Linked DNA regions of Homo sapiens: region 2 is reported to be linked to region 1. The links are microRNA targets in miRTarBase. Many come from high-throughput screens and were not tested one by one. Region 1 holds a microRNA gene; the other region holds the end of a gene's coding sequence.

What was found. Region 1 holds the annotated microRNA hsa-miR-520h (ACAAAGUGCUUCCCUUUAGAGU, at 1,768-1,789, opposite strand). A microRNA usually pairs through its seed, bases 2 to 8, with sites in the 3' UTR of a target mRNA and lowers its output. Matches are read on the target gene's strand: a 7mer-m8 pairs with bases 2 to 8, a 7mer-A1 pairs with bases 2 to 7 and ends in A, and an 8mer does both.
Region 2: the mRNA of NFATC2IP is a reported target of hsa-miR-520h. Seed matches in the 3' UTR shown: 7mer-m8 at 2,220-2,226.

The regions. Positions count from the first base shown.
Region 1 is chr19:53,719,483-53,724,008 of GRCh38, reverse strand. MIR520G (microRNA 520g) reads right to left here and starts at 1,843; the gene lies at 1,754-1,843. It overlaps MIR520D (microRNA 520d), which reads right to left and starts at 3,913; the gene lies at 3,827-3,913. It overlaps MIR517B (microRNA 517b), which reads right to left and starts at 2,933; the gene lies at 2,867-2,933.
Region 2 is chr16:28,963,516-28,967,568 of GRCh38, reverse strand. NFATC2IP (nuclear factor of activated T cells 2 interacting protein) reads right to left here. Exons shown (of 8, transcript NM_032815.4): 8 at 477-3,864. The coding sequence ends at 3,706. It overlaps NFATC2IP-AS1 (NFATC2IP antisense RNA 1), which reads left to right and starts at 1,125. Exons shown (of 2, transcript NR_186408.1): 1 at 1,125-1,153.

The sequences.
Region 1 (4,526 bases):
ATTTTTATTTGTTTTATTTATTTTTGAGACGGAATCTTGCTCTGTGGCCCAGGCTGGAATGCCATGGCTTCATTACAGCTCACTGAAATCGCCTCCTCCTGGGTTCAAGTGGTTCTCCTGTCTTGGCCTCCCGAGTAGCTGGAATCACAGATGTGCACCACCGCACCCAGCTAATTTTTGTAGTTTTAGTAGAGACAAGGCTTTGCCACGTTGGCCCCGTTGGTCTTGAACTCCTGACCTCAGGTGATCCTCCCGTCTTAGCCTCCTAAAGTGCTGGGATTACAGGCGTGTGCCGCTGTGCCTAGACTATTATTTACTTTGTTGACACTGAGACTCACTCAGTTGCCCAGGCTGGAATGCAGTGGCGCAATCTCAGCTCACTGAAAGCTCAGCCTCCTGGCTTCAAGCGAGTCTCCTGCCTCAGCCTCCCGAGTAGCTGGGATTACAGGTGTGTGCAACCAGGCCTGGCTGATTTTTGTATTTTTAGTATGGACGGGGTTTCACCATGTTGGCCAGGCCGGTCTCGAACAACTGACCTCAGGTGATCCTCCTGTCTCGGCCTCCCAAAGTGCTGGAATTATAGGCAGGAGCCACCATACCTGGACTAGTCCCATCATTAAAATTAGGGGGAAACAAAGATGCCCACACCTAAATAGCGTATCATTTATTGTTTAAGCACATCTCAAATACATTGTTTATCTAAAACACAAGTTTAACTGAGGGCCGGGACGAACCAAAAAATGGTCCTTACTTTCTTCCTGCCTGTGCATGGGTTAATATTTACATGTAGTCCCATCTAACAAGGCCTGGGAGGGGCAGAGGCAGGAGGATCTAAGACCACTTTAGCCAGGGCAGCATAGTGAGACCCCCGTCTCATGCATTTATCTCCTGGTCATGCACCCAAGATTTCAGCTTCATTTCCCCAATACACACTGAAGCCCCATGCACTCCACCTCCGTGCTCTTGCTCATCCCATCTGCAGGGACACTGAGGTCCCCTCAACTCCACCTGACCCCATGTGAGGTTCTATACCAGTGCCAGAAAAATTTCCATAAAGTAAGAGGTGTTGATGGCCACGCACCATGGCTCACGCCTTTGGGAGGCGCGCGGTGGTGGCTCATGCCTGTATTCTCAGCATTTTCGGAGGCCAAGGTGAGTGGCTCACTTGAGGTCAGGGGTTTGAGACCAGCCTGGCCAACATGGTAAGCCCCATCTCTACTGAAAAAAAAAAAAAAAAAAATTCAAAACGTAGCCAGGCGTGGTGGCGGCCACCTGTAGTTTCAGCTACTTCAGAGGCTGAGGCAGGAGAATTGCTTGAACCTGAGAGGCAGAGGTTGGAGTCAGTCGGGATCATGCCACCGCTCTCCAGCTGGGGAAACGAGACTCCATCTCAAAAATAAATAAATGAATAAAAAAGAAAAATACAAATATTAGCCAAGTGTGATGTCGGGCCCCTGCAATCCCAGCTATTCAGGAAGCTGAGGCAGGAGAATAGCTTGAACCCGCGAGGTGGAGATTGCAGTGAGCCAAGATCGTGCCACTGCACTCCAGCCTGGGTCACAGAGGAAGACTGTCCCAAAAAGGACCATATGAGCCCAAGAGACCTAGGTTGGAAGTGCCTCTGTACTCCAGCCTGGGCCACAGAGACCCTGTCTTAGAAAACAAAAACAAAACAGAACCCCAACATCATCCAAGTCTGATAATAAGCATGCAAATATATTACCAACATCAGCATCAACTTCAACACTGCTTTTCCCAAACGGTAACACTCTAAAGGGAAGCACTTTGTTTTTTCTCAGACAACAAACAGAAAGTGCTTCCTCTAGAGGGTCACAGCATGGGATCTTCTTGCTCCAGCACTCTGGGTTTCTTGTTGGAATTTTCCTTGACCAGGTTAAAACGGATACAAAAATAAAAATGCATTTATTGGCCCTGTTTACATGTTTTATGGAATCCAGAACATAAACCCCTGAAAGGACCATCTCCAATTCCTTGCTTCAAAGGCTCAGCAGGTTAGCCTTGTTCATCAAGGGGCGATCGTCCTGAGTTTTGTCCCCAAAGAGAAAAAGGAATACCTACTACTCATACCTTACATTTAGCTAAGAGAATTGGGCTGATGTTGAAGAATATACATTGTCTCACACACAAACATCCTCCAGGATAGACCAGAGTCTAGGCTGACTCTAGAGGACCACGTGAGATTAGGGGCGGTGGCTCACGCCTGTAATCCCAGCACTTTAGGAGGCCAAGGCTGGTGGATCACCTGAGGTCGGGAGTTTGAGACCAGCCTGCCCAACATGGTGAAACCCAGTCTCTATTCAAAACACAAAAATTAGCTGGGTGGGGCAGTAGGCACCTGTAATCCCAGCTACCCAGGAGGCTGCGGCAGGAGAATCGCTTGAACCCAGGAGGTGGAGGTTGCAGTGAGCCTAAATTGCAACACTGCACTCCAGCCTGGACATCAAGAGTGAAACTCCATCTCAACAACAACAACAACAATAAAAATAATAACTAGCAGGACACGATGGCGGGCATCTCTATTCCCAACTATTCGGCAGGCTGAGGTGGGAGAATCGCCGGAAGCTGGGAGGCGGAGTTTCCGGTCAACAGGGATCCTGCCGCTGCACTCCAGCCTGGGAAACGGAATGAGAGCGCATCTCAAAAAATCAAAAATAAAAAGATCACCACTTGAGCCCAAGAGATCTCGGTTGGAGGTGCCACCCACTCCCGCCTGGGCAACAGGGAACCTGTCTTGGAAAAAAACAAACCAAAGAGAACCCCAACATCATGCAAGTCTGATGATAAGCACGCTCTGCAAATGTATTACCAAGATCAGCAGCATCTTCAACGTTGCTTTTCTCAAACAGTAACACTCTAAAGGGATGCACGATCTTTTCTTAGACAACAGACAGTGCTTCCATCTAGAGGGTCACAGCATGAGGTCTTCTTGCTCCAGTACTGTAGGGTTCTTTTTTTTGTTTTTGTTTTTGTTTCTTTTTGACGGAGTCTTGCTCTGTTGCCGAGGCTAGAGTGCAATGGCACGATCTCGGCTCACTGCAAGCTCCGCCTCCTGGGTTCAAGCCATTCTCAAGCCTTAGCCTCCCGGGTAGCTGGGACTACAGGCACCCACCACCACGCCTCGCTAATTTTTTGTATTTTTAAATAGAGATGGGGTTTCACCGTGTTAGCCAGGATGGTCTCGATCTCCTGACCTCGTGATCCACCCGCCTCGGCCTTTCAAAGTGGTGGGATTACAGGCGTGAGCCACAGCGCCCAGCTTTTTTTTTTTTTTTTTTTTTTCAGACGGAATCTCACTCTGTCATCCTGGCTGGATGCTGTGGCACAATCTCGGCTCACTGCAGCCTCTGCCTCCCGGGTTCAAGCAATTCTCCTGCCTCAGCCTCCTAAGTAGCTGGGATTACAGGTGCCCACCACCACACTGGGCTAATTTTTGTTGTTATTGTATTTTTAGTAGAGACGGATTTTCACCACGTTGGTCAGACTGGTCTCAAACTCCTGACCTGAGATGATCTACCTGCATCGGCCTCCCAAAGTGCTGGGATTACAGGCATGAGCCACCATGCCCGGCTTTATTTTGTATTTTTATTCATTTGTTTATTTTTTGAGACAGAATTTCCCTGTGTTGCCCAGGCTGACCATTTGAAGCCAAGAGATATATTGGACATGTCACTGCACTCCAGCATGAGCAACACAGAGCCTTAGAATAAAAAAGCAAAACCAAAACAGAACCCCACCATCGTCCAAGTGTGATAAGCATGCTCTGCAAATGTATTACCGAAATCAGCATCAACTTCAACGTTGCTTTTCTCAAACCGTAACCCACCAAAGAGAAGCACTTTCTTTTCTTTTAGACAACAGAAAGGGCTTCCCTTTGTAGACTCACAGCTTGAGATCTTCTTGCTCCGGCACTCTGGGTTTCTTGTTGAAATTTTCCTTGACCTGGTCAAAATGGACACAAAAATAAAGATGCATTTATTGGTCCTGTTTGCATATTTTCTGGAATCTAGAACATAAACCGATACAAAGACCATCTCCAGTTCCTTGCTTCAAACGTTCAGCAGGTTAGCCTTGTTCATCGAGGGACAACTGTCCTGGGTTTTGTCTTCAAAGAGAAAAAGCAACGCCTACTACATATACCTTATATTCTCAGGAGTTAGACACCAGCCTGGGAAACATGGTAAAACCTCATCTGTAAAAATACAAAAGTTAGCCAGGTATAGAGGTGCATGCCTGTAGACACTAATTCAGGAGGCTGAGGTGGGAGGTTGAGGTTGCCGGGAGCCGAGATCACACCACTGCACTCCAGCATAGGTGACAGGGCCAGATCTTGTCTCAAAAACAAACGAACGAACAAACAAAAAATGCACACACCAACAAAAAAATGCCCAAAGTGATATAAGAGTATTCTCAGGGTGTAAAAGAGTCTTTTGTGTGTACATGATATTATATATATAAGAATATATGAAGGCCAGCCGCGGTGGCTGTCTGCAATCCCAGTACTTTGG
Region 2 (4,053 bases), not on the chromosome of region 1:
GCAAGTGAAAGAGAGGGGACAAGCTGCCCGCTATGCACACTTCTGGGAAGTGATACCCCATTCCACTTACACCCCAGGAGCCTGTATTGGCACTTGGCTACATCTAGCTACAGTGGAAGCCAGGAAGTACTGTCTTAATTTTTTTTTTTTTTTGAGACAGGGTCTTGATTGTTGCCCAGGCTGGAGTGGGTTGGCACAACCATAGCTCACTGCAACCTCAACCTCCTGGGTTCAAGCGATCCTCCCACGTCAGCCTCCCAGGGTGCTAGGTAGATTCCAGGTGTGTGCCCCCATGCCTGGCCACTGTTTTTATTCTGAGTGTCTCTGTGCCTCGCTAAAAACCATGGGTTCTAGTACCACAGAAGGAGGAAGAATGGATGTGAAGGAATAAGGATCTTATTCCTGTCTCTGTCACAAGGATCTTAGTGGGGGTCACATGAGGGCCACAAAGACAAAAATCCTCCAGTATACACAAGTTGAACATATTGCCATTTATTTTGTTGAGGTTAAACATATAATTTTAACGTATTCAAACTTATTAATGGACATTTAAAAAGCTGAAAAAGTGAAGAGCTGTACCATGTCGTGGATTATTTTAATGTCATAAAATTCAAAGGAATGCCACATTTCAATAAAACATTTTAAGAAGTTGACATACTTTTATTAGAATCATGCAAATATTAGAGAAAGGTTAATGGCTTTTTTTTTAGTAGACATTACTGAGAAAACTGGCTCATTATATCACAAAAAGTGAAACTTGGATCTCATATATAAAGGTGTATTTCACTGAATTTTTTTTTTTTTTTTTGAGACAGAGTTTCCACTCTTGTCGCCCAGGCTGGAGTGCAATGGCGCGATCTTGGCTCACTGCAACCTCTGCCTCCTGGGTTCAAGCGATTCTCCTGCCTCAGCCTCCCGAAGTAACTGGGATTACAGGCGCCTGCCACCACACCTAGCTCATTTTTTTTTTTTTTTTTTTTTGTATTTTCAGTAGAGACAAGGTTTCAGTCTTGAATTCCTAACCTCCGGTGATCCACCTGCCTCAGCCTCCCAAAGTTCTGGGATTACAGGCATGAGAAACCATGCCCAGCCGATTTCTCTCATTTTTTTTTTTTTTTTTTTTTAAGAGACAAGGTCTCGCTGTGTTGCCCAGGCTGGTCTCAAACTCCTGGGCTCAAGCAATCCTCCTGCCTTGGCCTCCTGAGTACAAAAGTGCATCTCAAATAGTTTTAAAATGATGTGCAATATTTAGCAACCAGTACAGCCCAGCATCAACCAATTAGAAGAAGTGTCTGACTGTTGAGAACAGATGCAGCCAAGGTGTCACCCCGGTGTGTACCAGCTGGACTTCAGCACTGTGTAGTGTTCTCAATATGAAAGGAAAAGCTGAACAGCTAACAGGAGAAGATGTAAAATATCTTAACAACTCTATTAAATAAGCAATCAAAAAGCAACCAACTGCAGAACAAGATAATTCATACTGTCTACATTAAAATTAAAATTTTCTTTTTTTTTTGAGACAAAGTCTCTCTGTCACTCAGGCTGATGTGCAGTGGCACTGTCTCTGTTCACTGCAGCCTCCACCTCCCGGGTTCAAGTGATTCTCCTGCCTCTGCCTCCTGAGTAGCTGGGATTACAAGCATGCGCCACTGCACCCAGCTAATTTTTGTATTTTTAGTAGAGATGGGATTTCACCAAGTTGGTCAGGGTGGTCTTGAACTCCTGGCCTCAAGTGATCCACCCACCCCGGCCACCGAAAGTGCTGGGATTACAGACCTGAGCCATCACGCCTAGCCAAAATTAAGAATTTCTGTTCAGTGACGGATACCCCTAGATACAAAGAAAATTTCAATTTTTTCCCCTTTAAATCTTTTTTTTGAGTGGAGCCTTGCTCTGTCGCCAGGCTGGAGTGCAGTGGTGGAACCTTGGCTCACTGCAATCTCCGCCTCCTGGGTTTAAGCGATTCCCCTGCCTCAGCCTCCAGAGTAGCTGGGACTACAGGTGTGCGCCACCATGCCCAGCTAATTTTTTGTATTTTAGTAGAGACGGGGTTTCACCATGTTGGCCAGGAGGGTCTCAATCTCCTGCCCTCATGATCTGCCCGCCTTGGCCTCCCAAAGCCCCCTTTTTAATTTTTTTTTGTAGAGACGAGGTCTCGCTATGTTGCCCAGGCTAGTCTCGAACTCCTGGGCTGCAGCGATCCTTCTGCCTGGGCCTCCCAAAGTGCTGGGATTACCAGTGAACCTCCATACCCAGCCCAAATATGCATTCTTGGAATTATCTGCAATTGCCCAAGAATGTACAAGCAACTCCTGAGAATAAACCAAAAAAGATAAGAAACTCCATGAGAAAATGGGCAATGCACAGGAAGGGAAACCAGAAAGGCTAAGTGAAAAAATTCCCCAAATTAATGCTGATCAGATGAATGTATGTTAAAGCACTGCACCACTATCTACCCATGAGACTGGCAAAAATTAGGTAGTCTGGCAATACAAGTGCTGGCAAGGATAAGGAGAAAAGGGCGGCCTCAAGTAGGAGGGTCAGTCACCGTTCTAAAGAAAATCTGGAAAACCAAAGAGAAACTGACCTCTGTGACCTATAGGCCCATCCTGGGTACACATGCCACACAAGCACAGAAGGGAACACACGAAAGGATGTTTATCGTGGCCTGTATCCGGTGCCAAGGGGTCAGGGGCACCCAGGTGTCCCCCACTTTAGGCAATGTGTGTAAACTGCAATTGACATTGTGGAGTGCCACATGGCAGGTCAAAGCAATACTGCATTTCTAGAAGAGTCAATGGGGCTAGATCTTAGCACACATTGAGTGAAAACAGCATAAGACCTATTGCACAATAGCACTATGTACAGTAAAAGCACATATTCACACATGAAACGTGGTATTTTACAAATACATTCATATTCAAAGACATGGGTGCTTATGGGAGAGGATGGTGTAAAGAAAGGGAAAAAAGCCATAAAACCAGAGAATCTTTGCATGGGACTGTATTCCTGAGATCCCAAACCAAAGGGATGAATGTGCTGTTATGCCTTAAATGTGTGCACCAGGAAATGCAAACTAGAAAGGGTGGCTCTGAAGGGTCCTCAGGTGAGGAAGACCCCCAGGGCTGAGAATCCACCACCTTCATCCTTCAAAAGAGTACCTCAGTTGTCTGCTTACGCTTCAGCCAGCATGTGTGAGCTTGGTCATTTCCTGCAAGCCAGGCAACCACACCAGTGTATAAGCCTCAAGCAAATGTCACTCCCAAGCCCCAAATGGGACTAAGGCCTCTGCTGGGCTAGGCGTGGTGTAAATCCCAGGCCTGGAAGCTCCTACCCAACCCTCATTTGTTTCAACTCACTTTCAATATGTGCATAGTTTCATAAAGCAGACATTTCCATGAGGAAAAGAGGATGGTGGTGAAAGGGGAGGGGTGAAGGGACATCTCCAAGTCACAGAGGCTGCAAAACTCAGCATGACTTGTGGACGGAGCCACAGGCCACCCAGGGCAACAACACCCACATAACTCACCAAGTGGTTAACGGCTCTAAACCAGGGTCAACAGGAGAGGGGACAAAAGTCACTCCTTGATTTTGCTGCAGCTTAAAGATAAGTTCTACCTCAGCTTATGCTAGCCCTTATGGGGCAAAAAAGGGAAAGTCATTCTCCCCAAGTCCAGGCTGGGCCGTCAAACAGGGAGTGGGGTGTCAGCCCCAGACCTCAATGAGGTCCCCAGATTCCATGCCCAGGTCAGCTGGCAGCTCCCTGCCTGAAAGCTTTGTCCCATCAAAGAAGAAGGAGAGCTTCCGTCCCGACAGTCCCATGGCCTCCTCATAGTGGGACATGAGGGTCTTTAGAGGGGAATCCTGGATGGAGACAAAAGAAAATGGACGTCAGAACATGAAAGGGGGCGGGGATCCCGTAGGGATAGACGAGGAACTTGGGACAGGGAGGATGGCGGCAGGGGCGGAAACAATAAAGTCAGGGCCCCATGCGGGGAAAGGAGAGAGGACAAAGAAGCCAGCCCAGCCAGGCTCCTCTCTGGGAGCTGGGAC